Linked DNA regions of Homo sapiens. The protein of the gene in region 2 interacts with the protein of the main gene of each other region in a pairwise test. Each region holds a gene or a part of one and is shown on either strand. Other genes may lie near its edges.

The links.
Region 1: the proteins of MDH1 (region 2) and CHRM2 interact in a two-hybrid assay, tested with the Homo sapiens proteins (one large-scale study listed by BioGRID and IntAct).

The regions. Positions count from the first base shown.
Region 1 is NC_000007.14:137,015,148-137,018,974, reverse strand, and holds part of CHRM2 (muscarinic acetylcholine receptor M2), read right to left. Parts: coding exon 2,709-3,827; 3' UTR 1-2,708. UniProt on the Homo sapiens protein: The muscarinic acetylcholine receptor mediates various cellular responses, including inhibition of adenylate cyclase, breakdown of phosphoinositides and modulation of potassium channels through the action of G proteins.
Region 2 is NC_000002.12:63,598,717-63,602,543, reverse strand, and holds part of MDH1 (malate dehydrogenase, cytoplasmic), read right to left. Parts: intron 3,375-3,827; coding exon 3,252-3,374; intron 1-3,251. UniProt on the Homo sapiens protein: Catalyzes the reduction of aromatic alpha-keto acids in the presence of NADH. Plays essential roles in the malate-aspartate shuttle and the tricarboxylic acid cycle, important in mitochondrial NADH supply for oxidative phosphorylation.

The DNA.
Region 1 (3,827 bases), on a different chromosome or scaffold from region 2:
AAAAATGTCTTTACACATTGCTAAGTGTCCCCTTTCGGGGAGAGGGGAATTGTCTCTGTTTGAGAGCCACTGAAATAGACAAATCCAGCAGTGGTTAATAAAAATCCTTGAATATAATCTCCATATCTCTCCAATCATCTATCATTTTCAGTATTCCTTCCATTTTTCTTATCTGTTTGACGTAGTTTCCATGGTGTCAGCCTATCTTCAATTTCTTTCTTTAAAGTGACAGTTTCTCTTTCAATGAGGTTGCAGTGGCTGTGGCAAGGATCAATAACAGAGGGAGGAAAAGGAAGGATACAATGGCAGCAGAGACTAAAAGCTTGATTCATGGTGCGTTGGATTATTAGAGCAAACAAAAAAAGACCCTGAATCCTGAATCCTGGATGCCAAAGGGTTCTTCCCAACTGAAGCCAAATCTACATAATAATAATACAATACATTAAAAAGGGAAATACTTGGCTAGTCAATTCTCTGGTTTTCAGAAACTCGAGGAGCCCACTGGCTTGACGTTATTTCCGTTCAACTGATTCCTTCATTTGAAGAAACAATATGAAAATAAATATGAATTTAAAATGTAAAAGTGCATGTTGAAGTAACTGTAGGTAAGGGAATCTCTATAAATGAATGCTTTAAATATGGAAGATTACTTTGGGGGGGTAATGACTGAAGTTATTTAAACAGGAAATTGTTTTTACGAAGGATAAGTCAAATATAAATACTGCTGGCAATTTGCTTCTTACTAACTTATAAGTTTTTTGGTTTTTTTTTTCCCTCATGCTTTTTTTCCTCCTTAACTCTCCAAAATGTTGAGGTGGCATCTATGAGGCTAATCATACAAAATAATTCTTTTAAGTGCTGGGGTCTAATATTGATAAATTTACCATGTAACTAACATTATTATTACTGAACAAGATATCATAAATCTAAAATCCAAAATATGAAATTTGCAAATGCGTTTATAATTTGATTTCCATTGATTGAGCCATTTTTAGAAAATCTCATTGGAAAACTACAGCAAATACTGTAAGAAAAATATAAAGGATAAAAATAACTAGTTGTATGTGAATCCGTATAATCCTAATCCTATATTTATTTAGACGACCAAATAAAAAATCTCTACGTGGCAAGATTCTATATAATGCCACCACTTAGATAATAGTTCCTGACATGATTATTATGGTCTAGAATTAGATGGTGAGATGTGGCATGGCAACAGCCACCTACCTCCTTCTGTCAGATTCTGTAAGCTCGTTTGGCCTCTATTTAGTTAGCCACTACATTTCTGTCACAAAGATTACTATAATTCTATTGATAAGAGAATTTTGAAGTTAAATAATGTTAGGGAGAATTGACAATTTGAGGAATATGGAATATGTAATTGTTTCAGTAATAGTTTTTAAAATATCGTTTTTTCCCCTTTCATGGGGTCATAGGATAATTGCAGACATCCTCACTTGGTTATAATTTGAATATCATCCTTTAGCAGGCATTGGATAGAAGGTTCTATTCTCTAGGGACTGGCCCAGAAATCACTGGTGCTATGTGAGTATGTTAATCCTGTTTAGGATTCCAAATAAATAAAACAGCATTCCTTTCTGCTGAGAAAGTCAGGAGTTCATTTTCTATAAGTTAACATTTCATACATGGGTCAGGCAAATTCAGGTTGAAATAGAAAGTCCTAAACTTCTATTTTTTAATCTTAAAATTCACCTGACTTTAATAAACTTGGTCCAACTAGATAGTCCATTATTTAATTTGATGAAACCTCAACTTTACAGTGACGATGGTTTCTTAAACAGGTTTATGTTTTAGGTAGGATATTCTGTTGATATAAAAGGCTATTTAGGAGAAAATCAGATTGGTTTAAACATTTCGCATATAGGATTATAAGTGCACTAAATCCTTATAGACCTTGATATCCCCAACGAATGCAAAGGACACAGTGAGGAGGGGTGAAACGTCCATTTTCATGGCTGTCTCTGGCTAGCTTTAGTGAAAGTCCTGTAGGTTTTCCCTATAAACAATATAGAACAGGGATGTACAAAATAGTGGCATAACAAGAAGAAAAATGGTGTGACCTAGTTGGGGTTTCTGTTTGTTTGCTTTCTCTTCATGGTGGGAAAAAGAAAGGCAAAAAATAAGCATTTATTACATTCCAATCCTCTAAATAGGACCGTAACAAAAGAATAAAATATGCTTAACACTCCGGAGACAATTTCTGCATCCTTCTTTGATTTTCTTTTTTTATGTCCCCATTGTATAGTGCCTATTTCTTTATGTTTAAGTCTCCATGTTTACCTTGTAACTGTGGCATTTCCTTCTCTTAAGGACACATGAGAACAACAACAACAAAAGTAACAAAAAAGGAACAAGGTTATTCCTCTTGTGCAGAGACTGATAAAATTGTAGAATCAGAAGCCCTTCTTCAAGAGATTATGAGAAACAGTGTATAGTTTCTTAAATCCACGATCCCAACATGTTTCTTTCATTGTCTCATTGCTCCTAATACTGACAGTTTATAAGGTGCAATTTTTGCAAACTGGAGCCTAGGCGTGATAAGTGTGTCACTGCTGGGCTCCTGAATTGCACGTTTTGTAATCAGACTATAAAGTGCAATGGCAGAGATTTTAAAACTAGGAGCTCGTTTATCCCTTTTATTCTTCTCAAGCTCCCCTTGCCCACCTTCTATCTTTTTCAAAGATATTTTACCTTGTAGCGCCTATGTTCTTATAATGACACATGAGAAGGTGTTTAAAGGTCTTCTTGAAGGTGGCATTGCAAAGTGCATAGCAGGCAGGGTTGATAGTGCTGTTGATGTAACAAAGCCAGTAACCAATTGTCCACACAGTGTTGGGGATGCAAGGTGCACAAAAGGTGTTAATGAGCACCATGACATTGTATGGGGCCCAAGTGATGATGAAAGCCAACAGAATAGCCAAGATTGTCCTGGTGACTTTCTTTTCCCGGGAAGGAGGAGGCTTCTTTTTTGCAGGCTGCTTAGTCATCTTCACAATCTTGCGGGCTACAATATTCTGCTTTTCATCTCCATTCTGACCTGAAGACCCCACTACCTCCACGGTGGTATTAGTTGGGGTACATGAGTCACTTTTTGGGGTCTTGGTGCCAATTCTGATGCATGTTTGCTTAGAGTTCTCATCTTTGGAATGGCCCAGGGAAGTGGAAACTGTGTTTTCATCCTGGGTTATTTCATCATCTCTCATATTAGAGGCAACAGCACTGACTGAGGTGGAGTCATTGGAGCTCTCCTTCTCCTCTCCCTGAACACAGTTTTCAGTCACAGGATCCCTGGGGGCTTTGCCATTCTGGATTTTGTTGTGCTCCAGGCCATCGTCACTGCTGGGCATGTTGTTATTGTTTGGCTTCACTATCCTTCCTTGTACCAGACTTGGAGAAACGGGGTCTTGGTTGGCAACAGGCTCCTTCTTGTCCTTCTTTATCCTGCTCTTGCTGGCTCGGGATATGTGCCAATATAGCACAGTCATGATGATCACTGGCAAATAGAAGGCTGCAATAGCCGTACCAAAGGTGACAGCAGCATTGGAAAAAAACTGAATGTAGCACTCCCCATCCTCCACAGTTCTCACCCCTACAATGAACTGCCAGAAGAGAATGGCTGGAGCCCAGAGGATGAAAGAGAGGACCCAGGCAGCTGCAATCATCATACCTGCCATTTTTGTGGTCCGCTTGACTGGGTAGGTCAGAGGTTTTGTGACACAGAAGTACCTGTCAAAGCTGATGATGAGCAGATTCATAACTGAGGCATTGCTGACCACATAGTCCAGGGCTAGCCAAAGGTCACACAC
Region 2 (3,827 bases):
AACTGGTGAAACTTCAGTAAGTCTAGTTAATAGTATTGTGTAGTTCATCAACTTCCTGGTTTTGATAATACTCTGTAGTTATGTAAGGTACCATCAATGGGTGATGGGTACATGGGCCTTCTCTGTACTATTTTTTTGCGACTTTTGAGTCTAAAATTATTTCAAAATAAAAAGCAAAAAAAAAAAAAAAAAAAAACCCCAACCAACCAACCGAAAAGGATAAAGATGAAAAAAAAGGCCATTACCTAAAATGTCTGCAATGACTCGACTGGTCTTCATACTAATTTATTCAGTTAAGTAAGAAGTAAACTGTCTTTACTTTCACTCCCACTCTTAAACTAGTTGAGACTGCTTTCTTAAATCCTAAAATAGTTAAAAGTTTACTTAAAAATTTATGTTTGTGATATTGTAAATCACTTTTGACCGATCTAATCCCTGCAAGTCTTGCAAGTATTAGGACTATTATCTACAATATTTGCATTAGTCTCCACAAATTAGTTCACAGTTGGGTTTCTGGGGTACCCAGCTATTGATCTGCTTAGCCTGTGGGATAGGGTAGAGTGGCACGCTGTTCAATGAGTACCATTTTTTACGTCTGCCATGACCAGAAAGAACTGGGGAAGAAACTGCTCTTATATTTATACTTAAATTTAGCTGGTATGGTATATAGAAAAAGATAAATTTATACCTTGAACAATTAACTCAAGATATATATTACCAGGAAGTTAGAGCCTATAACTTCCCTGAATGTCTGCTTCAATGCTCCCAAGTACAGTGAAGACAAAATGCCTCTAGGCCTCTCCACCCTCAGTCCTCCTTGGCTCCCATGCCTTCCTTTGTTCTTGTTGCCCTCCTCCTCTTGCTCCTTCTATCTCTTGAGCTAATCCAGTTCTGTCTGGACAGCAAAGGCCAGGTACTTTGCATCCAGCAGATATAGTTTCTTAATATGATTCATGTCACAATTAGTCTAAATTAATACATACCCAGGATAACAGCTCTTTGCTCCCTTAGACACTCATGTCTGTCACATAGGTCTGTTAAAAGTTTTTGATTAATTCTCCAGCCCTAGTAATTTTCTTACAAGCTAACTGGTATCATTGTCAAATTACCTTATCTGGTATCAATGTCAAATTACCTTATCAGCAGACATAAATACAGCACTGGTTTGCAAATACACAGGCAAGTTCTGCAGGTGTTAAACAGTCCCTAAGTCGCTAAGGCCTCTGAATTCCAAGACAAAAATATCTAGCAACCAGTCCTGTAAGAAAAACTTATCTTTGGGTTTGTTATTTTTCTCACTGGATAAACAACTTCTTCTAGAGGAAGAAAGTGCTTCTTCAATGACTCCCTAAAAGCTCTCACTATGCCAGATTGACATGCTGAAACAATGCCTAGCCAAGGTCCCAGGAGTAACAAAGAACATGTCCCCAAGTGAAGGTTAAAGTCTGAGGAGATAGCACTTTCTTTCCTCTTTGCTCATTCAGACTTGAGCCCTGCAGTGAGAACTGTTTCAGGCACCAGGACAAAGTATCTCTTTGAAGTACCTTTGGAAGCAGAATTTTCCAATGCCTGTCTCCACCAAAGCCTCAGGTGAAACAACAAAAAGTGGTTGTTAGTGTCATTGTTGTAGGAACTTTCTTGTTGTAGGAACTAAATAAGTCACTTTCTGGCAATCCAGAGTTTGCAACTGTAACATGTATAATATCTCTTCCTTTACAACTGTCCCACAGAACTCAAACTGCCTGCCATTCAAACAAACTCCTATTCGTTCTCAGCTACCACCAGACCCAGCTCACAGCCTATAGCCTCTCAGGGAATATTTGCACTTTAAGCTAAAAATTTAAGGGTTGTTATCCAACAACCCTCTAAATTAGGAATGTTTAGGCTGTATGCTTCTTAGAAAGAAGAAATCAACTAATAATAGCAGCCAACCTTTCTTGTATTTACTATGTGCAGGCACCATGCTAAGGGCTTAAAACAGATCTTATTTAATCCTCATAAGAACTCTCTGAGGTAGATACAATTATTACATTTTAAACATTGAATATACTTTCTCAAAATCACAGAGCTAGTAAGTGGACTAAGGTTAGTTGATACCATTAGGTAAGAACATACATAAGGGTTTGGAGTCAGGCAAATCAAGGTGGCTCCGTAATTTATGAGCTGTATGACTCTGAGCAGGTTCTCTGACTTCCCTGGGCCTCAGTTTTCTTACCTAATGCAGGGATAATATGAGATACCCATATGGTTACTATAAAAATTAAATGGAAAATTACATGTATAGCATTCAATTTACAGTAGATGCTTAACAAATGTATATTCTTTTCTCTTTCACTAGGCATTCCAGAGCTGAAGGATTATTAATTCTCAGGTTAGGGCAGTAGTGCTTCAGCTTAGACCTCACAGCATCTTCTGGTTAACAACAATTTTTTTTTGAAACTAAAGTTATCTTCTCTAGAAGAAAAAGCACTGAACTCATAGACCTATCTAGCAGTGATGACCTACAGACAAGAAGGGATGGCCAGAAAAGCATTAGGGCAAAGGAAAGAGGTTCTGTCCAAGAACGGGCACCAGGACCAGTTAGATCTGAAAAAGCCTAGGAAACTAGCTCAGATCAGTTGCCTGGCTTCTAATTTTTTGAAAAGCTATTGTTAATTCCCTGGTCACTGGCTCCTTGGCATACTTATCTATGGCTCTAAGAGTAAAGAAAATTAGCAACAGACTTTAGCTCCTAAGTAGTGAAAGGAGGAAATTTTACAGATACACATAGAATATTAAAAAGACATAAAATGAAAATTAAATATAAAATTAAAAATTAAAATCTGAATTTGATGGCTTAGCTGCAGCTAAAATAGAAGCAGAACCACACAATCACACAAAGCTCAAGTCTTTGTTTATATGAGATTATATGTATCTGAAAAAATTAAACTAAATTATGTACCATCATGTATAACTAATTTTTAACCACTGTAACAAGAGAACATTAGTAACTGCATTTCATTATAGTTAGCAATTGAAATATAGTTAAAGACGAAATCAAGTAGGAAGTCCAGCCTCTGGTCCTTTAAGAGAATACATTTAAAGACTCCCTAACAAATGAATAATAATTTACTTTTAATTTAATAAAAGTAATAGGTTCCTACTAAACAAAAACAAGAAAAAAGCACAAACTCAGATTCAGTTATTTTAAAAGTGAGAGAAAAATGTTTTAAAGTTGAACAACCACAAGATTTAAAATATATTTTTCTTACTTGAGCTTTAGCTCGGTTGTGATCCAAACGAGTCAAGCAACTGAAGTTCTCCTTGGGGATGGATGGAGCTGACTTGGAAGCAGTCAGGCAGTTGGTATTGGCTGGATTACCCACAACAATAACCTAGGAGGAATGGAAGGCACTGAAGAGTTACAGACTATATAGTTACTAACTAATCTATGTTAAAATTTGACTGAAAATGTCTAACAGGTAGCCTTTGTACAGGGGAGGCTTGGGAAACACCAAATACAATATAGCATAGGAAAATGCATTTTAAGTTATAAAAATCTTTTATAAAATGGTAATAAAAAATTTTGAAATAATATCAGATTTATAGAAAAGTTACAACCATATTACAGAGACTGACTCCCATATATCTTTTTTTTTTTTTTTTTTGGTACCTCTTTTGACAAGCTGTAGACAAGATACTTCATTGTCTCTAAGTAGTGCAGTGCTGGCAAATATTTCTCACGAACAAGGACGCTTTGAAGAAGTGGAATTACTGTGCAAGGAGTACTTTACCTCCAAATAGCCTGCAATTTAGCAGTCTGAACAATCTTCTAATCTTTTACTGGC